3 separate regions of the Homo sapiens genome follow, and all the other regions are linked to region 1. Evidence: fine-mapped expression QTL. A gene starts in region 1. Each other region holds a variant in brackets. All regions are shown on one strand. Distances are between the middles of the regions. Region 1 holds the start of OSCP1 (organic solute carrier partner 1). Region 2 holds the start of SNORA63C (small nucleolar RNA, H/ACA box 63C). Region 3 has its middle 46 kb from the start of MIR4255.

The links.
Region 2: its variant is fine-mapped to the expression of OSCP1 in testis (GTEx, PIP above 0.99). The same link has a PIP of 0.9 or more in esophagus muscle, nucleus accumbens, ovary, prefrontal cortex and tibial nerve.
Region 3: its variant is fine-mapped to the expression of OSCP1 in subcutaneous fat (GTEx, PIP 0.91).

What each region holds. Positions count from the first base shown.
Region 1 is chr1:36,445,772-36,453,952 of GRCh38, forward strand. OSCP1 (organic solute carrier partner 1) reads right to left here and starts at 4,680. Exons shown (of 10, transcript NM_145047.5): 1 at 4,487-4,680. The coding sequence starts at 4,598. It overlaps LOC107984940 (a long non-coding RNA gene), which reads left to right. Exons shown (of 3, transcript XR_001737976.2): 3 at 3,687-3,794. RefSeq lists an enhancer at 597-891 and a silencer at 4,806-5,075.
Region 2 is chr1:36,415,795-36,423,975 of GRCh38, forward strand. OSCP1 (organic solute carrier partner 1) reads right to left here. Exons shown (of 10, transcript NM_145047.5): 5 at 7,569-7,672; 6 at 6,974-7,102; 7 at 6,356-6,425; 8 at 4,682-4,821; 9 at 3,197-3,260; 10 at 2,112-2,461. The coding sequence ends at 2,345. SNORA63C (small nucleolar RNA, H/ACA box 63C) reads right to left here and starts at 2,784; the gene lies at 2,654-2,784. RefSeq lists an enhancer at 5,444-5,943. The variant C/T (reference allele first, on the strand shown) is at 4,722.
Region 3 is chr1:37,111,628-37,119,808 of GRCh38, forward strand. No RefSeq gene overlaps it. Among named protein-coding and RNA genes, the nearest start is that of MIR4255, 46 kb to the right of the region's middle. RefSeq lists an enhancer at 3,122-3,291. The variant G/C (reference allele first, on the strand shown) is at 3,940.

The DNA.
Region 1 (8,181 bases):
TGGTGCGATCTCGGCTCACTGCAACCTCCACTTCCCAGGTTCAAGCGATTCTCCCGCCTCAGCCTCCCGAGTAGCTGGGATTACAGGCACCTGCCATCATGCCGGCTAATTTTTTATTTTTAGTAGAGACGGGGTTTCTCCATGTTGGCCAGGCTGGTCTTGAACTCCTGACCTCAGGTGATCTGCCCACCTTGGCCTCCCAAAGTGCTGGGATTACAGGTGTGAGCCATCACACCCGGCCTGGCATTTATTTTTTATTTGTTTATTCTGAGAGGGAGACTTGCTTTGTCGCCCAGGCTAGAGTGCAGTGGCGTGATCTCAGCTCACTGCAACCTCTGCCTCCCGGGTTCAAGCGATTCTCCTGCCTCAGCCTCCTGAGTCGCTGGGATTACAGGCGCCTGCCACCACAACAGGGTAATTTTTGTATTTTTTGTAGAGATGGGTTTTCACCATGTTGGCCAGGCTGGTCTCGAACTCCTGACCTCAGGTGATCCACCCACCTCGGCGTCCCAAAATGCTGGGAATATAGGCGTGAGCCACTGCGCCCGGCCCCTGCAGCATTTATTTAACTGGTGGTATAGTGTGATAGACTTGTGGGAATTCAAGGAGGTGGAGTTTTAATCCCCTTGCAGGTGTGTTTGGGGAATAGTGGTGCTGCAAGGGGGTCATCTCTGAAGGACAGTGACTCTCGCTGATAAAATGGAACTGGCAGATGCTCCCGAAGGCAGGCAGGCTGAACGCCAGCAGGGGTCTCTGTAGTGCTGTGTGCTCCCCTACTCCTTTCCTCCTGAGAATACAGGGAAGAGAAACACCCTCTTTTTCTATTATTTCTCCAGATGACTTATTTGTGACAACTCCACTTTAGTTCTGTTTTGAGTGGGGGCAGGCCCAAGGCTATTCAGAGCTAGTCGTTAAACTGGAACTAGAAAAATAAAACCAGAGTCTCACTGCCCTTTGGTTGCTTGTGCTACACTGTGATTGGCATGTCTTGGAAAAATCACTTTGTGGCCACATGCCTCAGTTTCCTCTCCTGTAAAATGAGGAATGTAAGCAAAAGATAATAAGGTCTTATTTATAAATATTTTTAAGAGGCAAAGGTAGCTTTTATTATTCTCGCCATTGCTTTAAACAGGAGACAACATTCAATATGCAACACTCGATAGTTGCCTCATAGAGAGAGCACTTCCTTTCTGTTGAATGCTAAACTAGAGGCTGCGTTGTGGGGGAAGCTGCAACATCTGCCTTGGCCTTGTGGGAACAGGGATGGCCTCCAGGAGACCAATTAGTCGTATAAGATAATGAAAACATCTAGAAGAAATATGATTTCCACTCAAAGCTTCGAAGAGGACTAGTTTACCAAGTCTAGTGTTTTATAGGCTCCTGTGTACAGGGATCTGTTACAGGGGCTCTCGCTCCTGTGGCCACAACAACTTTAAATGGTGGAATAGGTGGAAGACATGAGTATTTCTCAGCCCGTTGAATCCTATGCTCTCTACCCTGTTTTCTCACTCTATCTTCTACAGATCTCCAACAGCCAACTATTTTGTCATTTATTTGATAAAATCAGTGGGTATATTGGATATATATTTTTCAGACTCCTCCCTCTCCTCCTGACCTACCAACCCCCACTAAGATTCTGATATAGTCCCCAAGGTATGGCAGCAGAGTATAGTGGTTATAGTAAGGGGACTAAGTGGTTATAGTAAGGGGACATTGGCTGAGTATGAGGACATTGGTTATATGAGGGGACATTGGTTATAGTAAGGGGACATTGGCTGAGTATGAACTTTGGAGCCTGATGCCTTGGGCTCAAATCCTTTACTTTTCCTCCTACCAGCCATGTAACTCTGGGCAAATTAGTCTTAGTTTCTCCATCTGTAAAATGGGGATAGTAATATTACCTATGTGTTACAATAGTTGGGAGGATTAAGGTGTTTAAGAGGAGCCCTTGGTACAAAGTAAGTGCTTGATTTTTCATTGTTTTATTGTTGATTGCTGTCACTAGAATCAGTTACTGGAGTGGACTGATCAATAGCCCTACCTCCAGTGAATGTCCAGAAGGGCTGCATCAGGCTCCATATAGTATCTCACATAGTGTTTGACACTCAGTCAAAATCTGTGGAATGAATGAGTGTGCGAATGTAAATTACTAAAGATGGCCGAAACTCCCAAAACCATATTTAGCAAAAGCAGAAAAAAGGCTATAACTCCTAAAGGTAAAGCTGTCCTCTAGTATTCCAAGGGCCTTGTCCAGACCTCCTCTTGAAAGATACCTATTACTCATTGTGTTAAACATATTAAATACATTATTTCATTCAATCCTTACAACTTTGCTTTAACATATATGTATTATTACCATTTTATGGAGAAACAGGTTTATAGAGGTTACACCCAAAGGGCATGCAATTAGTTAAATGGTAAAGCTGGAATTGGGATCCAGGTCTGTAAGACTCTAGAGAGTATGTTCTTAATTGCTAATTTACACTATCTTCCAAGATGCAGACTACCTACCAGTCTGAGGACTCCAGCATGTCACCTCATTGGTGCCACTAGCCTGAATGAAATCAGATCACACAGGCACCAAGGAAAACAGAACCCTCTCAAAGGAAAAATGACAATGCTATATAAAACTGCCAATTTAGATAATCAGTTCAAAAAACATTTTGTGATCACTAATTTATTCTGGTCTAGGAATTATGGTAGGTGCTGGAGTACAAAGATGAATAAGACAATCAAGCGGGAGATAGACATATACACAGATCATTTCAGTATAGCATGGCCAGTGGTAAGGTACTGAGGAGCAGGCATGGGGTGCTATGGGAGCACAGGCTGCTATGAGAGCATGCACAGGCCCTTTCTGCATATGGGGAGGATTCCTGAAGGAGATGATTCTTAAGCCGAATAATGCAGGATTGAAGGGGAAGAATGTAGGGATGGGAATTACTAGCACAGAAATACGAACAAACATGGTTTAAGCGGAGATCTATGAGCAGTTTGGTATTATTGGGAAACAGGAGGCAGGCAGTGGTGGAAGAAGGGACTGCAGAGGAAGACAGAGATCAGATAAGGAAGGGCCCTGAAATGGCCTGTGCAAGGACTTGGTCTTAACCCAGATGGCAGTGGAAAGCTGACAAAGGGTTTTAGGCAGGGGCAAGTTTGGACAGATACACATTTTAGAAAGCTCATTGGCGGCAATGTGCAGAATGAATGGAGGGGGTATGTTATAGGGAGTTATTTTTAGCTCTTTATGCATGGACTTGCACTCAGTCACACACACACAATAGTTAATATCTGAATATGTATGCTTAGCATCTGAATATGTATGTTGAACATCAATTGAGCATACAAAGATTAATGGAGAGAATGTTTTAATTGGCGGCCATGTCAATTGCCTTTTCAACTTTTCCTCCTCCACTTTGAAATATAATATTTCCTTCATACTTAATCCTAGGAAATTTGGTATAAGCAAGTTGTTTGCCGAGAAGGGAGGAAAAGAGGAAAAGGAACAGAGTGGCAGAGTGTTCTGAGTCGTCATTTTTCTGGGGATTAGTGTGGTGTCCATGGGAGGCAGATTTTGCATTTTCGAAGCTCTCATATAATTATTTTCACAATTGTATTCCCCTCCAACACTTGTGAGGAGATTTATAACTTTCTTATTTTTTTCATATTTATCTATATTATTTTAGAACACCAAATTTCTAGAAATACTTCTGAGATGAGTAAGACCAATCTCCAGCTTATGTGGGAAGATACTACCATAAAGAAATTAAGAATCTGAACCTGGGCTGGACGCGGTGGCTCACGCCTATAATCCCAGCACTTTGGGAGGCCGAGGGGGGCAGATCGTTTGAGTCCAGGAATTGAAGACCAGCCTGGGAAACATGGTGAAACCCCATCTCTACTAAAAATACAAAAATTAGCTGGGTGTGGTGGTGCATGCCTGTAATCCCAGCTACTTGGGAGGCTGAGGCACGAGAATCGCTGGAACCCAGGAGGCAGAGGTTGCAGTGAGCCGAGATCGTGCCACACACTCCAGCCTGGGCGACAGAGCGAGACCCTGTCTCAAAAAAAAAAAAAAAAAAAAAAAAAAAAAAAAATCAGAACCTGTTCCTTGGGGGTAAAGAGGATGCTTGGACTAGCAAGGGGTATGATACTAGATGGTGGGCAGCTGGGACTCCTACATTTGGAAGGCACTGATTGACAAGAGAGACTGGGAAATCACCTCTCCCATTTGAAGAGATGGGGAAATTAGGGAGGTCAGGCACCCTAGTGTCCACTGGGAGTATTAAGTTCCTCTGCTGTGAAAAAAGCTTTTGGGGGGATTTGACTCCCGAGGGGCTCCAAATGGATGTGGCTTGTAAGAAAGGTCCCTGGTTATAAGAGTGAAGTGTGTAGGGGTGCGGGTCTGGCTGTGGGTGTTAGGGCGATGATGAGAGGGCCGGGCTGCTGGCTGCGGGTCTGGCTGAGCGGGCCGGGGGCCTCTCACCTTTGCGGGCCTTGTCTCCCGGGATGTTCTGGGCCCGCAGCCGTTGGTCGAGGATGTAAAGCATCTCCCCGCCCAAGTTCAAGAAGAGCAGCGGTAGCGTCCGCACCGACATGGTGCTGGAAACGAGCTGGACTGGTGAAGAGCCCCGGGGTTCGGTAGCCAGTGGCCTGAAGGCCAGGCCGCAGCGTCCCAATAGTCCGGTTGCTGGGGCAACGCCGTGACGGGAAGAGCGAGCCAATCAGAAGGCGGTTTGGTGGGAGGTGCCCTGAAGACGGGAGCTAATTGGTCTGGGTGGTGGACCGTCCCGGGGGGATTGGTCCGAGCCAGAGGCCGGCGCGGCGTTGGGCGCGGCTGGGGAGCTGTGCTTCTGAGAGTAGGTTTCCCTCGAAAGGGCGAGGGCCGGGCCAGGGCTGGGGGTGGTCTCGACACAGCCAGCCCGGCGCTTGGGACCCCGGCCGCTGGCGCGGGGCCTCAGGTTCCTATAACAGAGGAAAGCCCAGGCAGAACGGCATTAGAGCAGGCTCGGGTCAGACGGACCTGGGTTGGAATCACGGCTCGTGATTTCTTGCTGTGTGACTTCGGGCAGGGTTTGAGCCTTGGCTTCCTCTTACGTAACATGGAGCTGGCACTCACATCACAGGGCGGCTGAGAGGAATCAGTCAGATCATGGAAAGGCCCCGAAAGCACTCAATAAAAATGGTAACTGACTTTTCTTTTAGACGAGGGAAGGATCAGAAGTCCTGAGTCGTTTGCATCGCCTCCCAAAAGTTTACTTGAAGTGAAGCCCCTCCTGGTTTCATACTCCATGAAGCAAACCAGTCCCGTCCGTCCCCGTGTGTCCAGTTCCCAGAGGATGCGCCTGGGGGCTCTGGGAAGTTCCCTCCTCGACGCTGTTCCGAAGGCCTCCCAACCATTTCTTTTTTCTTTTTTTTTTTTTTTTGAGACGGATTTTGCCCTTGTCGCTCAGGCTGGAGTGCAGTGGCGCCATCTCGGCTCATTGCAACTTCCGCCTTCAGGGTTCAAGCGATTCTCCTGCCTCAGCCTCCCGAGTAGCTGGGATTACAGGCGCCCGCCACCATGCCCGGCTAATTTTTGTATTTTTAGTAGAGACGGGGTTTCACCATGTTGGCCAGGCTGGTCTGGAACTCCTGACCTCAGGTGATCTGCCCGCCTGGGCCTCCCAAAGTGCTGAGATTACAGGCGTGAGCTATCACGCCCGGCCCCAACCATTTCTCTTTGAGGGCAGCGACTCCCTTCCTTACCTCCATCTTAAGCTCCAGGATTACTTTTTGCCATCTGCTGTATATTTTTACTCTGATGAACAACCATTTCTGTAAATTTCAGTACTTCCAAAACCTACTAATTATCTTTCCCTCCAGCTACTCAAACTTGAAACTTGGGCCTTGGCTTCCAAATCTGTTTCCCAGGGTCTTTTATCAGTCATCATATTATGCTTTTTCCTCCAACACCTTTCTTACATTCATCCCTTCATTTGTTTTTCTGTCTGCATTGCTATGTTCCTCTGTATCACTGTTCTTTTCTCTCTTCTACCTTGCACTGGCTGCTAAGCTAAATGTCAGAAGACATCACTTTTTTTTTTTTGAGATGGAGTTTCACTCTTGTCGCGCAGGCTGGTGTGCAATGGCACGATCTCGGCTTACTGCAACCTCCGCCTCCTGGTTTCAAGCGATTCTTCTGCCTCAGCCTCCTGAGTAAGCTGGGATTACAGGCATGGACCAGGGCACCATGCCCGGCTAATTTTGTATTTTTAGTAGAGATGGGGTTTCACCATGTTGGCCAGGCTGGTCTCGAACTCCTGACCTCAGGTGATCTGCCCGCCTCGGCCTCCCAAAGTGTTGGGATTACAGGCATGAGCCACTGCGCCCGGCCAGCATCACTGTCAACATGACACATCCCTTCAGTGGTTTCCTACTCTTTGCCAGATCACAGTCTAGATGCCTTGGCATGGCATTCCAGGCTCTCCACAGGCTCCAGCTACCTTTTTTTTTTTTTTTTTTTTAAAGAGATAGGGGTCTTACTTTGTTGCCCAAGGTTGGAATGCAGTGGCACCCTGGTGGCTCACTGCAGCCTAGAACTCCTAGCCTCAAGTGATTCTTCCACCTCAGACTCCTTAGTTGTTGGGATTTCAGGTGAGAGCCACCATACCCGGCCAACTACCTTTTTAAAGCCATCTCCTGCACCTGGCCACCTCCTCTCCCCCAGTCCAGTTGAACTTGTCAGCAGGCTGCCTCTTCCTCATTACCACACCACTGAAAAGTCTTGTCCTGCCATAACTGAGCCCAAGTCCTTCCCATATTAACATTCTCCTTCCATCCCTGCTAGTCTGTTTTCCTTCCTTTCCTTCCCAGTGAAGTGTTTTGAACGAGTTGACAACACTCACAACTGGAACCTCCTTAACATCCTCACTCCCCACCTCATTGCAACTGGTATTATGCTCCCTGAACCCCACTGAAACTGCTTCACCATGAATACTTTTTGGTCCTTCCCTTAACTGATATCTCAGCATCAGGACTATACAGTATCCCATGGCTGGCAGCCCAAGGCTTTGTTTAATTTGGTTATTTTGCCTGCTCTGTGCTCTGTTTTAAAAGGGAATACAGGCCAGGCGCAGTGGCTCACACCTGTAATCCCTGCACTTTGGGAGGCCAAGGCCAGCAGATCACTTGAGGTCAGGAGTTCAAGACAGGAGTTCAACACCAGCCTGGCCAACATGGTGAAACCCCATCTCTACTTCGCTGGGTGTGGTGGCACACACCTGTAATCCCAGCTACTGTGGACGCTGAGGCAGGAGAATCGCTTGAACCTGGGACGGGGAGGTTGCAGTGAGCCAAGATCACACCACTGCACTCTAGCCTGGGGGACAGAGCAAAAACTCTGTCTCAAAAAAATTAAAATAAATAAATAAGAGGGAATACAACTAGGATAGGAATGTAATAAACACCTTAGCATCATTACTTCATGTTAGGCCTTCATGCATTTTTGTTACCTGCCTTGCTCCCAAAAGCATTTGAGTTTGCTGTAGTGTACTCTTCCCTTAGCTTCTCAGACCTTTTTCTTGGTCCCTAAGCAGTGTGGTATAGTGAACAGGACATAGGCTCTGGAGTCAAGACAGAGCCAGCTTTGAATCCTAGACCTTTCTCTTCCCAGCTATATGAATTTGGACAAGTTACCTAACCTCTCTGAGTCTCAGTTCTCTCATGACTCTCTCATCTCTCATGGCTAAAATGAGGATAATTAGCCAATGTGCAGAGTAAAGGTGGCTGTGAATATTAGATAATGTGCCTAAGGAAGCAGTTAAAACAATGCCTTTTGACCGGATGCAGTTGCTCGCGCCTGTAATCCCAGCACTCTGGGAAACCAAGGCATTTGGGAGGGCAAGGATTGCTTGAGGCCAAGAGTTTGAGTAACCTGGGCAACATAGTGAGACCCTCTCTACAAAAAATAAAAAAATTAGCTAAGCGCAGTGGCTTACACTTATAGTCCTAGCTACTTAGGAGGCAGAGGCAAGAGGATTGCTTGAGCCCAAGAATTTGAAGTTAGTGAATTATGATCAGGCTACTGCACTCCAGTTGGGGCAACAGAGCAAGATCCTGTCTCTAAAAAAACAACCAGCCAAACCAACCAACCAACCAACGAAAAACACACAAATGCCTTTGCAGTAGGGCCTGATCCAT
Region 2 (8,181 bases), 30 kb before region 1:
AACTCACAGATTGCCTCATCATGGAGCTGTCATACCAGAGATCTGCATCTTGTTTATTTACTGATAGGACAGATACGTTTGAAATCACCAGCATCGCTCTGGGATAGGTGGAGGGAGGAGGCTGCGGCTGCTTCTCGGCACCTCACGGCCCACCTCCAAGGCCCTGGGACACACTCAGAGCAGTGACATTCTGATATGTGACAGCAAGGTGGGAGCCGGACTCAAAACAGGTCAGAACCTTCCCATTCATCTGTCACCCAGTCAGGCCCCCCTGAATGGTGGCCAGATTGCTGAAAAGAGACTAAAACGAAAGGCACTTTGTACATCTGATGCAACAGGTGTTTTATAGCACAATATGCTTCTCCTCCCCAACAGACTTTTCGTGAGTATGTGGAGGGGGAGGGTGTCTTTATAGGTAAGGAAGTGTAACTTTAATGGGTAGGGAGCAATTAACATTTATTTGGTGATTTATATTCTTTTTTTTTTTTTTAATTGAGACAGAGTTTCGCTCTTGTTGCCCAGGCTGGAGTGCAATGGCATGATCTTGGCTCACTGCAACCTCTACCTCCTGGGTTCAAGCGATTCTCCTGCCTCAGCCTCCTGAGTAGCTGGGATTACAGGCATGCGCTACCAGGCCTGGCTAATTTTGTATTTTTAGTAGAGACAGGGTTTCTCTATGTTGGTCAGGCTGGTCTCGAACTCCTGACCTCAACTGATCTGCCCGCCTCGGCCTCCCAAAGTGCTGGGGATTACAGGCATGAGCCACCATGCCCAGCCCTTGGTGATTTACATTCTGTATCTAAACCCTTTGCCTTTGGAAAAGCCAAAGGGCAGCTTCCATTACATTCTAGAATGATGTTCACCTTGGTCCGTCCCAGGTGTGAGGGGATGGAGAGGTTCCTGTAGTTGGCCCAATCTCAGGCAATGTCCAGCTCAACTTAGTTTCTCTCCAGCCCTCTGCCATTCTGGATATTCCTTCCATAGGATTGAATGGGTCTGAACCTGCCAGTTACTCAGTCCTGGGAAGGAGCCTATGGCAGAGGGCTGCTGCGCCTTTCTGAAGCAGTAAGGGCAGCCCTGGCTGGAGACATTTTACATGGATTCCAGTGAGACTTGGCCTCCTGCTGCATCCTGCAAAGTCTGCTCCCGCCCAGGGAAGCGGCTCAGCTAGAATGCAGAAGGGAAAGGTGCATACCACACGTGCCTCCCATGCACCCAATCTAGGGTGCTGTTTGGTGACTCACGGTGATGCAGAGGAGACCGATGTCACAGTGCATCCTGCCGGGTATCTTTTTTTTTTTTGAGACATAATCTCGCTCTGTCACCCAGGCTGGAGTGCAGTGGCGCGATCTAGGCTCACTGGAAGCTCTGCCTACCAGGTTCATGCTATTCTCCTGCCTCAGCCTCCAGAGTAGCTGAGACTACAGGCATCTGCCACCATACCCAACTAATTTTTTTTGTATTTTTAGTAGAGATGGGGTTTCACTGTGTTAGCCAGGATGGTCTCGATCTTCTGATCTCGTGATCCGCCCACCTCAGCCTTCCAAAGTGCTGGGATTATAGGCCTGAGCCACTGTGCCCGGCCTATGCTGGGTGTCTTTAGAAGGCAAAGCACACTCAGGGGTAGAGGAAGACCCTGGGGGTAAGGAGTACATGTCATGCTGAAAAGAAGAAAATATTCTCTTGGTATACATGTCAGTATGGGATAAACTGACACCGCATGGATAGACGGACGTGCGGGAAGTACAGATGCTGGCATGTCCTGCCTGGGGCCAGCTGAGTGTTCCCTGTCACGGCCTTGCTTACTCTTCCTCTGAGGTTACAGTTCCTAGTGAGCCATGGAGAAGAGGGTCTTTTACACTGAGCCCTCACTGTTTATGGCAACTGCCTCGAACAGTCATTGATTTCAAGCTTGCCTACAGGCAGAATGTATCCCAGAAAGCCAAGGATTTTGTTAATGTTTACAGGCCTTTGTAGATCCCCACAGGAAAGCTGAAATAGTAATCCTGAAAATGACAGTAGGGGTGACCCCTTACCCACTCTGGGGCTCAAACCTATGGCTCAGGAGGCTTTTGGTGGCTGCCACAGAATTAAGAATAAAATGGGAAAGGTCAAGTTTAAAAGTCAGAATATATTTCACTGAAAATATGTGTATGTGTGTGCCTTCAAGAGTGAGTGCTCCTCAAGGGAGACTCACACAGTTCCTTACAACATAAATAAGAAATAGACGTAATGGCTTCACTCAGTAGAAAACTAGCAGCATCATTCTGGGCCATGGGGCATTCCCCAGGGGTCACCATCCAGCAGCCTCTCCCTGGGGGCAGAGGACGCCTGGTCAGAACAGCTATAACTCATCCATCATGGCGAGCAAATCGTCCCCTTTGCTGGTGCTCAGCCTTGGCTGCTCCGTGATCTCAAACTCCCCCATGATTCGAGCCAGCTCCTCGCTCCGTTGCTGGTCCTATGAGGGAAATGAGAGGTAAAAGGGCATGAAGAGGCTGTGCTGGCAGGCCGCCTCTTTGTGCACTAGGCACTTAGTTTTTTGTCCCATGACTGATATGTTTCAGTTGCGCACCTGTTTGTCAGAAAAGGGATTGTAGTTACAGGCTGATCAGAGAGAAGAAGAGGGTCTATATATTTTTTTTCTTAATCAACATGTATGTGACCAAGCATCCCTGGCTGCTACAGAATAGCAGATGGGTATAGTTAAGAAACAACTTTAATTTGAGCAGGGGGAATGACAATACAGCACTTAACAGCTATATTGTAGTCTGAATCCTGCTTGAAAAAGAGGGTCTCTGAAGTTCAACGTTATATAAGATGAGGAAAGGAGGAAGGGAGGCTGGGTACGGTGGCTCACCTTTGTAATCCCAGCACTTTGGGAGGCCAAGGCGGGTGGATCACTTGAGGTCAGGAGTTTAAGACCAGCCTGGCCAACTTGGTGAAATCCCACCTCTACTAAAAATACAAAAAAAAAAAAAAAATTAGCTGGGCATATTGGCGGGCACCTGTAATCCCAACTACTCGGCAGGCTGAGGCATGAGAATTGCTTAAACCTGGGAGGTGGAAGTTGCGGTAAGCTGAGATCAAGCCACTGCACTTCACCTGGGTGACAGAGCGAGACCCTGTCTCAAGAAAAAAAAAAAAAGATGAGGAAGCGAATACGATTGGACCCTGTGTTATCCCCTGTACGTACCTGGGTGGCTTGTATGTTGATAACTTCATAGGATAACTCTTCTGGCCTGGTTAGCGCTGCTTGTCTGGATGAGATGGTAAAGAAAATGGGTGCAACATTAGGGTTCTTTCCCTGCCAGCATGGCAAACTGGCTCTTGATCAGTTGGCAACCTATTTTTTCTGCCTCATCTGCCATTTCTCTTAAACTTTCTACCCCATCTCCCACCAATGTACCCTACGACCTAGAAAGTCAAGTTCTTTTATCTCTCTGTGACTTTGCACATTATAAGCCCTGCCAAGAATGTTTCTTCCCTTCCTCTGCTTGGCAAACTCCAAGACCTAGATCAAATGCCAGCTCCTTCAATCTGCCAGTGCAAAGTCAGTCACTGTCCTCAATTAGCGCATTCATGACACAGCACTGAAATAACTTATATCTGTACACGTTCACTCTCCCACTAAGCTGAGAGCTTCCTGAGGACAGGCTCTAGGTCTTACATCTTTGCATTCCCAGGACTTTACATAGTACCTGTCACACAGAATTAAACAAAAGAAGTTATTAATAGTTCAATGAAAGGTGACACTCACGCCAAATACTTGGTTTTGAGGAGGATCACATGAGATAATGCATGCAAAAGTGCTCTGTAAACTGTAAAGCACTATAAATCACCGTGGGTGATTTACTATTGCTGTTGGTTTTGGGTTATACTGTCTAATACAGGGAAATCAAGCTCCAACCTCACTCTGGTTTCTTAACACACTGTCTTAATCTGGTCATCCTGGCTTCTAACACTGCTTATTCAGCTGTTCTCTGATAAGTAAAACATTATAACTCTTTTTTTGTTTTGTTTATTATCATTTTTTAGAGACAGGGTGTTGCTCTCTCTCCTAGGCTGGAATGCAGTGGCATGATCACAGCTTGCTTAACCTTAAATTCCTGGGCTCAGACGATCCTTCTGCCTCAACCTCGTGGGTAGCTGGGACTACAGGTGCGCACCATCACACCGTCTCTTTTTTTTTTTTTTTTGAGACAGAGTCTTGCTGTGTCTCCCAGACTGGAGTGCAATGGTGCAGTCTTGGCTCACTGCAACCTCTGCCTCCCGGGTTCAAGTGATTTTCCTGCCTCAGCCTCCCGAGTAGCTGGGACTACAGGTGCGTGCCACCACACCCAGCTAATTTTTTTTTTTTTTTTGTAGAGACGGGGTTTCACCATGTTAGCCAGGATGGCCTCGACCTCCTGACCTTGTGATCCGCCTGCCTTGGCCTCCCAAAGTGCTGGGACTACGGGCGTGAGCCACTGCACCCGGCCCCATCTCTTTTTTTGAATGACTCTGGAAGATTCAGGCCATTTCATCCTGGTGGGCTATTTAGATTATTAAATTTGTTGGTATTTTATTTGTGATATTTACACAAATATTTATAAGTGCCACTGGTTTGTAATAGTCATTTTGTGTTCTTGTCATGCTTGGGATTTTTATATGTCTTTAACGAAACAGGTTTAAAACATACTCCTCTTCTTCATCGGTGGTAAAGAGATTCAACCGGAATC[C/T]GGGCTCAGGGCCACTGGGTTTCTTAATCTCCATCCCTCCCATCAGCCTGGCCAAGAAATTCAGCTCTTCTTTAGCAAGAGGGTTTGGAGCAATGCTTTCCTGCAGAAACAGTTGCATGATTTTTAGCCACATGAAGGCAATCACATTTCCTGCTAAAACCTCAGAGACACAGGTAGGTATTATAAAATAAGGTAGAACAATTGCTATTTAAATTATTTCTGGGTCCAAATAAAGTGTAGAAAGCAGCCTTAACCAAAAGAAAAACAATCACGTCAGTAGCAGAGGGAATGTAGCAACTTTGCAAACCAGAGATTTTCATACTTTCCGCAAGAGTGGAAGCCCCAGGGATCCACGTTTCTCCTCTCACTACCTTCCTCCTTGAAGAAGTGTATGGCTTCCTTTCCTGTCAATCGGTTTCCCTCAGCATTTACAAGTCGCCTCAGTCCAGTCTCCTTCCAGAGGCGCTGCCACACTGCCCTCAGGTGGTGACGGCCGGGAACACACCCTCGAGTCCATTCCCTCCTCTCACAGTCCTCATCCTGCCTCATCCTGTACCCCTCTTCCTTGTAGCCTGGCCTCCCCTGTTCTGCCTCTCCCCTCACTCCACCACCAGTTACCTAAATGCAGTTTTTGTCTCATTTCTCCCTGGCTTGAAACAAAGCCCTCTGCCTCCTGTCGAAAGAACAAAGCCCAAATTGTTTACCACCCTTCCTGGTCAGGCCCCAGGGTCCTGTCCAGGCGAGTCTCTGCCAGCAAGCCTCCATGATACTGTGATCCGTTACGTAAGCCTCGTGGGAGACACCGCCATCCTCCTCCCGGGAACACTCTTGCCCCTCTGTCACCTTGGTCCGTGTGCCCATTTCTCCCTCTCTGCTGTTTCATAGTTTACCTACTCTAGAGCCCCACTTCAATATCCCCGCCTCTGAAATGCCTTCTTGATCCCTGTGATCCCTGTCCACTGGACAGACATGAATTCCTCTGGCACAGCACTTTGTGCAGGATCCCCAGCCAGCCCTTCCTCCACCTCATTTGAGTTGTTTCTTTCACCGTCTTTCCCAGGGTACCACAGGCCCCTTCAAGATGGGACCACATCTACGTCAGCTTCGTGTCCCTGGGTCCCCAGCCCATAGAAGCAGTTTAATAAATGTTTGCTGAATAATTTAATATTCTGTGATCTCTCCTACAGCTAGCTGGGAGCTAGTTCAGCGAAAACTTCTAAGGATGGAATTCAGAGAAACTAAAACCCCCCACTCTGACTTAGCTACCACGGTGCTATAGAGGGAAACATTAAAAAGAAATGTTTTAATGATCAGAATACACACGAGTGCTGATGTCAGCAATCACGGACCTAATGGCACTGGTACTACGCTACTGCATATGTCCTGGTGTGTGGTTCCTCTTAATTATGGTGGCCGAGCCAAGCCTAAAATTACCTAATTAGTGAGATCACTGGAAGTCTCCATGAAAAGCTACAATTAAAACCTGTGTACTCGTAAGGTGGAATGGAGAAGATTGCACACAACAGGGGAAATGTTGGCTAGATCCGAAATCTAAAGCGTTCTCACCTCTCTTTATGTAGACTTCCGTATCTAGAGAGAAGCTGTGAGGGTAGGCAAGGAAGGCAGAAGCTCACCTGGGTCCATGAGGCTAAGTTCTTTGATGATCCAGACACATGAGTTTCCACAGGCTGATTCACGCTGTACCTGGTGTGTCAACAGAAAATGGTGACATTATCCAGCCCCTTTCCACGGACTTCTCTCTAACTCGTAAGCATAGTTTGTAGCTTTTATTCTGAGACATTAAATAGCATCCAGAAAGGTGCTGTGGGTACAGAATGCAACTGAGTGTGTGTTAACCATTCACATTTCACTTCTTCCTAAAGAAAAACACCTGGGGAGGCTGGGTGGCAATGCCTCCTCTTGTGAAGAGTAACACGCATCACTGAAAATATATGCAGCTTTACAGAACGGATAAGTCTTTCTGGATTTCCACTGCAACACAGATTTTGGCTAGTTCTCTTGCATGGCTATTGAACATCATGTATCTTTTCATTCTGTTGAGTTGCCTTATGTTTGGCGTTCCTGGGTGCCCTTTGAAATGTCAGGCCTCTGTATGCAGTGTACCTAAGGGGAAATTACTCCTATTGTCGGCAGGGATTTTCATAGCAGAAGTCTGGCTGTTTCTCTTTTTTTTTTTTTAAATGAAGTGACCTCCCTTGGACTTGAATTCACTCAGAGAAGAATTTGCTTACATGTTAGTTCCCAGTTTCAGGACTCGGTCTCCATAAAGTTCAAAAGAACCTTCTTTGGGTGCAGGGACATAGTTTCCACCATGCTTGAATTCTATCCTCTTCACTTCTTCACCTTTGTTGTTGAACATTCTACAATACAAAGTATGACATGATGGAATGTTCTCCAAGCTTAGGTAGTCCTGGAGGCTTCTTTATTCTTTGTACTACAGAACAAAAAAGGAATACATGCTCTCCTTCAAGATAAAGGTGCTGGTTGTAATAATAATAATAATAATACAATAATAATATTTATTGAGCATATGTATGTGCCAATTGCTTTGTAAGCACGTTAGAGCACTATTATCTTATTCATCCACACAGTAACCATTTAACAGATGAGGAAATTAGTCCTGGGGAACTGGGTAACTTGCCTCAAGTCCCTCTACTAAGTGACAAGGTGGGGATTAGAACCTGACTTTTTCAATAGCTGTTTTACTGAAGAAAGAGAAGGGCTGGGCAGACTGTGAGTGGCTTGGCAGTGCGGCATTCCGTGTGCGGCCCATGTGCTGATTTCCTAGCACCCCAAACATAGCTCTGATCATTGTTGGGAATTCACCTGATGAGTCCTGGAACTTCAGTTCCCCAAGGAACAGGCCCGGACACCGGCAACACAAAGCGACCGTTATTATTCTGAACTTTGTCCTTTAGAAACATGGATACCTGGAAAAAAATACATTTATTGTCATTTTTCTTGGTATATTTTCATAGACATCAATATTCTGAGGGTGGAAAGTGCGTAATGGTTTGGGAACATGACCTATGAGTTTATAACAATAAGAAGGGAGAGGCTGGGCGCAGTGGATCATGCCTGTAATCCCAGCACTTTGAGAGGCTGAGGCAGGCGGATCATGAGGTCAGGAGATAGAGACTATCCTGGCTAACACGGTGAAACCCTGTCTCTACTAAAAATACAAAAAATTAGCCGGGCGTGGTGGTGGGCACCTGCAGTCTCAGCTACTCAGGAGGCTGAGGCAGGAGAATTGCTTGAACCTGGAAGGCAGAGGTTGCAGTGAGCCAAGATCGTGCCATTGCACTCCAGCCTGGGCGACAGAGTAAGACTTCATCTCAAAAAAATAAAAAAATAAAAAAAAGAAGGGAGAAAAAATTACACTTGCAGAGTTAACTGTATTTTAACAAACAGAACTATTTTTTTTTTTGAGATAGGGACT
Region 3 (8,181 bases), 670 kb after region 1:
CTGAAATTTCCAGAGCTTCCCAAGTATGGTAAGTTCTATGCTCTCATCCTTCCAACGGATATTCCTATACAGTAGAGACTAGAGAGCTAGAGCTGCATTTCTCTGACACCTTCTGATAAGTAGGTTTGCGTGTGTGATCTAGGTTTCTCCAAGTAGAAAGACCAGATGAGACGTAGAAGGCAGAAGTGAGCCACAGGCAGTGGTAGCAGTGGGGTCTCCTAGAGAAGCTCCCACTAGGGCTGCAGTCAATTCCCAGGTCTTAGGTGCTGAGCAGTGGGAGGTGGTGGCCATGGGGTTTCCCTAGAAAAGCTCTACTGTTTGCAGAATATTTCTCCTGTCATTATTTCCTGATCCTCCTAGCAATTCTATGAGCTACCTGATCCCTGTAATAAACCCCTTTCTACTCAAACTAGCTGGAGAAGGTTCTGTCTGCAAGAACAACTCCAAGTATTGCACTAGGTTCTGCTGTGGTCTTCATTCCATTCTGGCATTGTGATACAGTGGCCAGGAGCATTAACTCTTGGTATCCAATAGACCTTGGTTCAAATCCCAGCCCTATCATTTTCTGTGAGACCTTGGGACTGAGGTTGACTTCTCCTCCTGTAAGATGGTGATTATGATATGTACCTCATGGTATTATAAAGTTCAAATGAGATCATATATGTAAAGAACATACTACTGACATATAGCAAGTGCTGGATACAGGATGAAGATTATTATTCTTACAGCCTAAGTTTCTTTGTGAGCCAACCCAGGCTTCACATTGGCTATGAAAAGTCAATTTAAGAGTAGACAAAAGAATATTCATGGCAAAAAAAGGGGACCTTGACAATCTAGAGGGTGAATTGAACAAGATGAAACACATGCAGGAACTTGCAGGGGTAAATGCAAAGTCCTAATCTCGGGTAAAGAAAATCTGAACAAAGGCAGACAGGCTGAGACACAGAGCTTGGTTGCAATTACATGAGACAGATTTGTAGTGTTTAGACAACTGACCAACATGTATCACTAGGGTGATGTGTCACTAGAAACAAACACAGTCTTTGGCTGTATTAATAGAGTCAGAGTACATAGAAAGAGGGAGGTAACAGTGCTGTTCTACTCTGTGTTGACAGCCCACATCTACAAGATTTAACTTGTGAAATCCTTATCATGAGAGGATACAGCTATACTACCTTGAGTTCAGAAAAACCAACCAATATTGGGAGAGAACTAAGATAACAACTAATATCTATGGTTCTTTTAACATGTGCCAGAAGTCATTCAAAACACATTCTTAACTCTTTCCCCAGCAGGATAGACTTGGACTTGCAGAAGTGGGGATGGGCTATGTAGAATCAGACTTGGTTTTAACAATGGCATGACAAGAATGACAAATGTGGGGCACTCATGCCATTATCAGCCCCTCCCATCCCTTGGCAGACATCACTAGTCAATTACAAAAATTGATCTCACTGATCCCAAATGTGGTTTCTAAAACATCCCCTTCAACCAATATTGCACTCAATCAAAGATAAATCCTATAGGTATGTCAATCACCACATGGACAGGATGGGCAAGTGGTGACTGTGCTGTGAATTGTAGCCAACCAAGAAGAGACGGAACTTCTTCTAAAGTGAGCTGAGAAACATAAGAGAAGGCTGGCAGAGCCTCCTGGAGGCAGACACAGCCCAGCCGCTTATTCTTTGCCTCACAGGTACAGAAACTTGGTATTGTTAATGCACCCAGAATGGATCCAACTGTGTGACAGAGACAATACTGTATGTTCACCAAGTCCCATTTTATTTTCTTCTTCCTGGGCACACAAGAAGACTACATTTCCCAGCTTCCCTCACAATTAAGTTGTGGCCATGTGAATGGGTTCTGCCCAATGGGTGAGAGCAGAATCGGTAGATATCACTTCTAAGCCAGATCATAAAACCCACCTGGGAGAGTGATTATCCATGCTTTTTCTTCTCCTTCATCAGTGACCTTGGAGGTCAGGTACTGAAGACATCCACCGGGCAAGATGAAAGGAGCCTGAATCCCTGAGTCACCAAAGAGGAAAGCTCCAAGGGTTACTACCCAACCCACATCAGACTGTGACGTGAGCGAAAAGTAACCTTTGTTGTGTTAAGCTACCAAGATGTCAGAGTATATTTATTAATGTGGCAGAGCCCAGCCTAGCCTGACTACAGCAGATTGACACAACTCTGTGTGTGTTTCTCCAATGTGGACTGGGATCACCGGCATTAGAAACACCCAAGAAGCCTGTTAGACCTGCATAGTCTTGGCTCCACTTCAGAGGACCTGGAAGCATAGATGCTGGGAGGGCCCAGGAATTTACAATTTTAGCAAGTAGCCTAGTCATTCTTATTCTCCCTGAAGTTTCAAAACCACTTGCTGCTCAGCCACCCTCATAGAAGCCAATTTATCACTTTATAATGAGAAATAGAATTGTCAAGCAGAGCAGAACCTGGGGTCAGCTGACCAGTGCTATCTTTTCCCACGGACACATGTAAATGGAAAGAAATGGAATTCCCATCTGAAGGCAACTTGGGGGTCTAGAATTAGATCCAGAGAGTTGATAAAGGAGATCTTAAAGGATGTCAGCATGAGCCATGGTGGTCTGAGACCCTCTTCCCTCCACCAACCATCACTGCACATTTCATTCTGGGGTGATGTCCTGTGCAGACCAAATAGGGCACCTTCTTCCCAAGACCATGCTGGAAGCATCGAGACAATGCTGGGCTTCTGGACCCATTCTCTTTACACCTTAAAGACCACCCCTTCTGCCTCCCCAGCCATTCCTCAGACACGGGCCAACATAATGAATTAGGGAAAGCCCATGAGGCCACCCCTGGAGATGTCACACAGTGCCTGGGTATCTCCTTACCATGCATCTTCAGCATGGGGCTCAGCAGGGAGGGATGCACATACCTGCACCTGCTGTATAGATTGAGTCTCACCTGGCCTTCACCTAAGGCATAAGGCTACCTGCTCCCCAAGTCTGCTGACCATGGGCTCCAGGGCCCATGGATTTGAGTCACAGCTCTGCCACATACTGAGTGGGAAAATTGGAACAAGCCACTTCATCTCTCCAAACTGCAGTTTCTTTGCCTGTCAAATAAGGATCAAATAATAGCCACCTTTCACAGTTGTGATGGTTGCATGAGATACATATTTTTTGACAGCCCCAAGCCTCACCCTACATATAGGATGTTCAATAAAACACCGAATGGACTGTGTGACATGTGTGATGTTTGTGGTGGGAGAGGCAGAGGGGATGGACAGCATGGAGATTAAGAGTCTGCATTTTCAGGTTAGAAAGGCCTCTGTTTGAATAGTCAAGTACTAACTGTGTGGCCTCAATTTCCATAGCTATAAAATGGGAATGGGAATCCCTTCATCACAGGATTCTTGTAAAGATTAAATAAGCTAAGTGAATGGAAGCCATTACTGTGTATCTGTATGTGTATGTGTATGTGTGTGTAACCTGGTGAATAGATGTTGTGTTTGTGTATTTGTGTGTGTGATAATATCGTTAACATTTCTTGGGTGCTTCCTACATGGCAGGCACTCTTCTAAGCACTGTACTTAATTCACTTGAATTCTCACAACAATCTGAGGCAGACAGTCTCTCATTTAACAGATGTGGAAGTTGAGCTGTAGAGTTTACTTATGTTGACCTCACTGAAGGTATCCATAATCCTTCCATTTCTCCTCTGATGCTGCTTTCCCCGCTCTGGTGCCAAGAGGTGGGAAGAGTAGATGCAGCCCCTAGCCCTTGGTGGAAGCCCAGGGCTCACCTTGTTCATCCCCCAGGAACCTTATGTCCTGGGGAGCTCCATGTAGGTTTTGGGTGTGAAAAGTGGGAGTAGACGAGCAGAAGACACAGGGTTGTTGTCAGTTCTGCAGAATCCCAGAGCCCTGGAGCCTTGAGAGGTCGGTATGTCCACT[G/C]CCTATCCTTGAGCTCTGGCAGGACCAGGACTGACCTGGTGTGATTTCCTTGTGATTTGCAGAATACATCCAGGGACCTGGTAAAGTCATAAAAAGCAAGGCTGTCATGCCCTGCTACCCAGTGATTCCTTCTTAAGTGCTCACCTTAGAGAAATGCTTGCCATGAGCACCTGGAGACACCAGCAGAAATCTTCACAGCAGTGGTGATCATAAAACCCCAAACTGGGTGAGCAGGGTGGATCAGAGCCACTTTGTGGACTACTACACTTACAGCCATATGAATATCCTGCAGGAATCTTAGAAACAAAGTTGATGGAAAAGTTGCTAAATACATACACTTTTTTTTTGATTTACAAGAAGCCACTGACTCTACATTTTTAAAGAAAACAAGGGAATGATAAACCTAAAATTCAGAGAGTCACCTGTGGCAGGGAACGGGGGCCCCAGTTAGAGAGAAGCACCCCAGAGTTTCAGTGGCTTCAGAATGTTCTAGCTTTTAGGTTGATGTATTAGTCCGTTTTCACACTGCTGTAAAGAACTACCTGAGACTGGGTAATTTATAAAGAAAAGAGGTTTATTTGATTCACAATTCCACAGGCTTAACAGAAAGCATGACTGGGAGGCCTCAGGAAACTTACAATCATGGTGGAAGGCCAAGGGGAAGGAAGCTTGTCCTACCATGATGGAACAGGAGGGAGAGAGAGAGCAAAGTAGGAAGTGCCACACACTTTTTCTTTTTCTTTTTTTTTTTTCCTTTGAGATGGAGTCTCACTCTGTCACCCAGGCCAGAATGCAGTGGCACGATCTCAGCTCACTGCAACCTGTGCCTCTTGGGTTCAAGCAATTATCCTGCCTCAGCCTCCCAAGCAGCTGGGATTACAGGCATGGACCACCATGACCAGCTAATTTTTCTATCTTTAGTAGAGATGGGGTTTCATTATGTTGGCCAGGCTGGTCTCGAACTCTTGACTTCAAGTGATCTGTCCACCTCAGCCTCCCAAAGTGCTGGGATTACAGGTGTGAGCCACTGCACCCAGCCACCACACACTTTTAAACCATTGATCTCATGAGAATTCACTCACTATCATGAGAACAACAAGGGGGAAATCTGCCCCCATGATTCAATCACCTCCTGCCAGGCTCCTCCTCCAATACGACATGAGATTTGGGTGGGGACACAAATCCAAACCATATCAGTTGGGGTGGAAACACTGGTGTTTGTTTTGTTGTCTTCATAACTTATATATTATTTATATATATACTATATATATAGCTTTTATATAAATCGGATTAAATGAACAGAATAAAATAAATGAATTTCTTATTCTTTTATTGATTTTTGTTGAGATGGAGTCTTGCTATGTTGCCCAGGCTGGGGTGCAGTGGTGCCATCTCAGCTCATTGCAACCTGCGCCTCCTGGGTTCAGGTGATTCTCCTGTCTCAGCCTCCCAAGTAGCTGGGACTAAAGGCAACTGCCACCATGCCCAGCTAATTTTTGTACTTTTAGTAGAGATGGGGTTTCGCTATGTTGTCCAGGCTGGTCTTGAACTCTGACCTCAGGTGATCCGCCCGCCTTGGCCTCCCAAAGTGCTGGGATTACAGGGGTGAGTGCCCACGCCCAGCTTGCCTTATTCTTATATAGCATTAGACAAGCAATTTCATATGATAGTAACAACCAATTTCCATCCTGTTTGTGTTGAGTTCTTACCATCACATTAGAAATGGCAAATATTCATAGTATTTTTTGGACCAGGTCCTGTTCTGAGCATGCTACATGTATTAACATATTTAACCTCCATGCAAATCTATGAGGTAAGTTACAATTATTATCTACATTTTGTAGCTGAGGAAACTGAGTTAGAGAGGTTATTTTGCCTGAGGACACACACCCACGCAGGACTCAAAGCCAACCTGCTCTACTCTTGAGCCTCCGTTCCTAGCCCTTGGGCACCACAGCCTTTTGTGAGCCCATAGTTTGCCTTGATGTGCCTGTTTATTCCTCACACTGACCCTCTCAGGAGTAGGTTATTATCCTGTCTTCTAGATAAGGAAACCAGGGCTTACAGTTACATGCCTGTTCTATGTGGCCCTCTGCCTCCAGCAGGCGGGGAACACGTTCACATACCACTTCCCTCTCCTCGCCCATGGCAGATCCAGCTATCTGATCAGGGCACCCACTCAGGCCCTTCTCCAGGATGGTTGCTATTAATCCATCAGAATCAGCCCACACCTTGAAACCTATTTGCCACTTCTTCACCCTAAATGACCTCCACTCCTGCAGGTCCTCAGAGACATTCCCAGCACTATTACCTGAAAAGAGCTCAGACGGTCTCCCCGTGTCTTCCTCCACTGCAGTGTCTGCACCGTCACCTGGGTGTTCCTGACCCTGAGGGGCTGGCCCTCCCACTGTTTCATGCTCCACTTCTACAATAAACCAAAACTGGCCTTGAACAAGTCTCTGATGCCCCATGCCTCAGTTTTCCCAAATGTGAACTGGATGAAAGGCTACATGATCTACCCCAAGCCTTAAGGAACAATAGCTGTTATCTGTGTTTTCTGCTCCTGTCGGAGAAAGAAGTCAGTTAAATACCAGGCCCGTTTAGGGACCCATTTCTGAAGACTCAAGACTCTGGGGCACTGCTGGCCTCATCCCCCATGAGCCTTACATTACATTTCAAGCAGCTTGTGATGGCAGCACATTGCAATAGATATTAATTGCTACATTAAATTCTATGATTTTGCTTAAGAGAATGTTCATTTAATTTCCCTGCAACTGTGGTCAACCCGATCTTTAATCGAAACTGACAGGTGCAATTTCAATCAGGTAGCAAACTTCCCTCTCTTTAAAAGAGCCAAGAATGGCATGAATATTAAATGGGTCAGGACAGTTGGCAACACTAATACAGCTTAAATCAGAACAAGCCTCAGATACAGCTTTTAATTATTCATGCTCTCCTGGTAAGTCAGGCCCTGACAACAGTGTCACTGGGAGTTCAGGAAACTTCCTCAACGTGACATGAAAGACAAGGGGGGAGCCAGGGTGGAGACAGTGTGGCCCAGGGTCCCAGGTCAGGCCCCAGATGTCTGAGGGTAATCTGGCTTGGGGAATAGGCTGGAGGGTTGTTAAATTAAAGATGGACACTACTTTTTAGCTGCTCCTCCCATCAATAGGCAGAATCTATTTCCTTTCCCATGGAATCTGACTCTTGATCTATTTTGACCAGTGGAATGCAGCAGAGGTGATGCTGTATAATTTTCACAACTGGATCCTCAGAGATCTGCAACTTCCACATTCACCAGCTTGCAGCCTCTGGCATCACTGAAATGCTGTATGCTAAATGGGGGAGGGACAGAAACAAATATAAAGAGGCACAGACTGAGATAGAGGCACAGCTAGAGAGAGACAGTGGCATACAAGAGAGGGAGAGGGAGGGGGTATAGAGAGAGAGAGAGAAACTTAGTTAAAAGAGAGTCATGTGGAGGCAGAGCCAGGAGTAGCATCAGAGGCCTGGGGAGACAGACCAGGGGAAGAAGGGACAAGAGGGAGAGGGGCAGATCAGAGCCTGCTCAGGGACCTGTCTGTGAGTACAGGAAGACCACGGGGCAGGGGTGCAGGTGGCACTAGTGTGGGGCCCAAACCAGCAGAAGAAAATAGAAACAACTGGACATGCCCAGAGATTGTTGCCTGGGGATGGAGGGTGGAGCTTGCCTTGCAGGAACCAGCTCCCAAAACAGCACAGGCTCCACTCAGCACTGCCTGGGCTGAACCAGGTGTATAAATCACTCAGGGATGGGAAACACTGATGTGTGGCCTTGGAAACAGCACCTGGCAGGGGAAATGGGGGGAAGGATTGTGAGGGGCCTGAGGGCAGACAGACAGAGAAGCAGACGGGACTGATCCGAGACAGCCAGGGAAGAGGCAGAACCCAAGAAGAGACGAGAGAGACAGGTGGAAAAGATAGGAGGAAAGACCAAAAGATGCTGCTGGAGAGGAAGGCACCAAACGTGAAAAAGATGCACACCCAGAGGTGGACAGAGGGAGACACTCGGGGAGGGCACAGGAGGTGAAGATTCAGAAAGAAAGACTTGCCTTGCACACTGACCTTTGAAATAATGTTTGCTGGGAACTGACTGTTCTCAAGAATAACACATCCTCCTATGTGTAAAGCACTTACAGTCCACCAGGCACTTACCCATCCATTATGTTCTCTCCTCCAGCCCCCCCAGCAGCCTCCCCAACT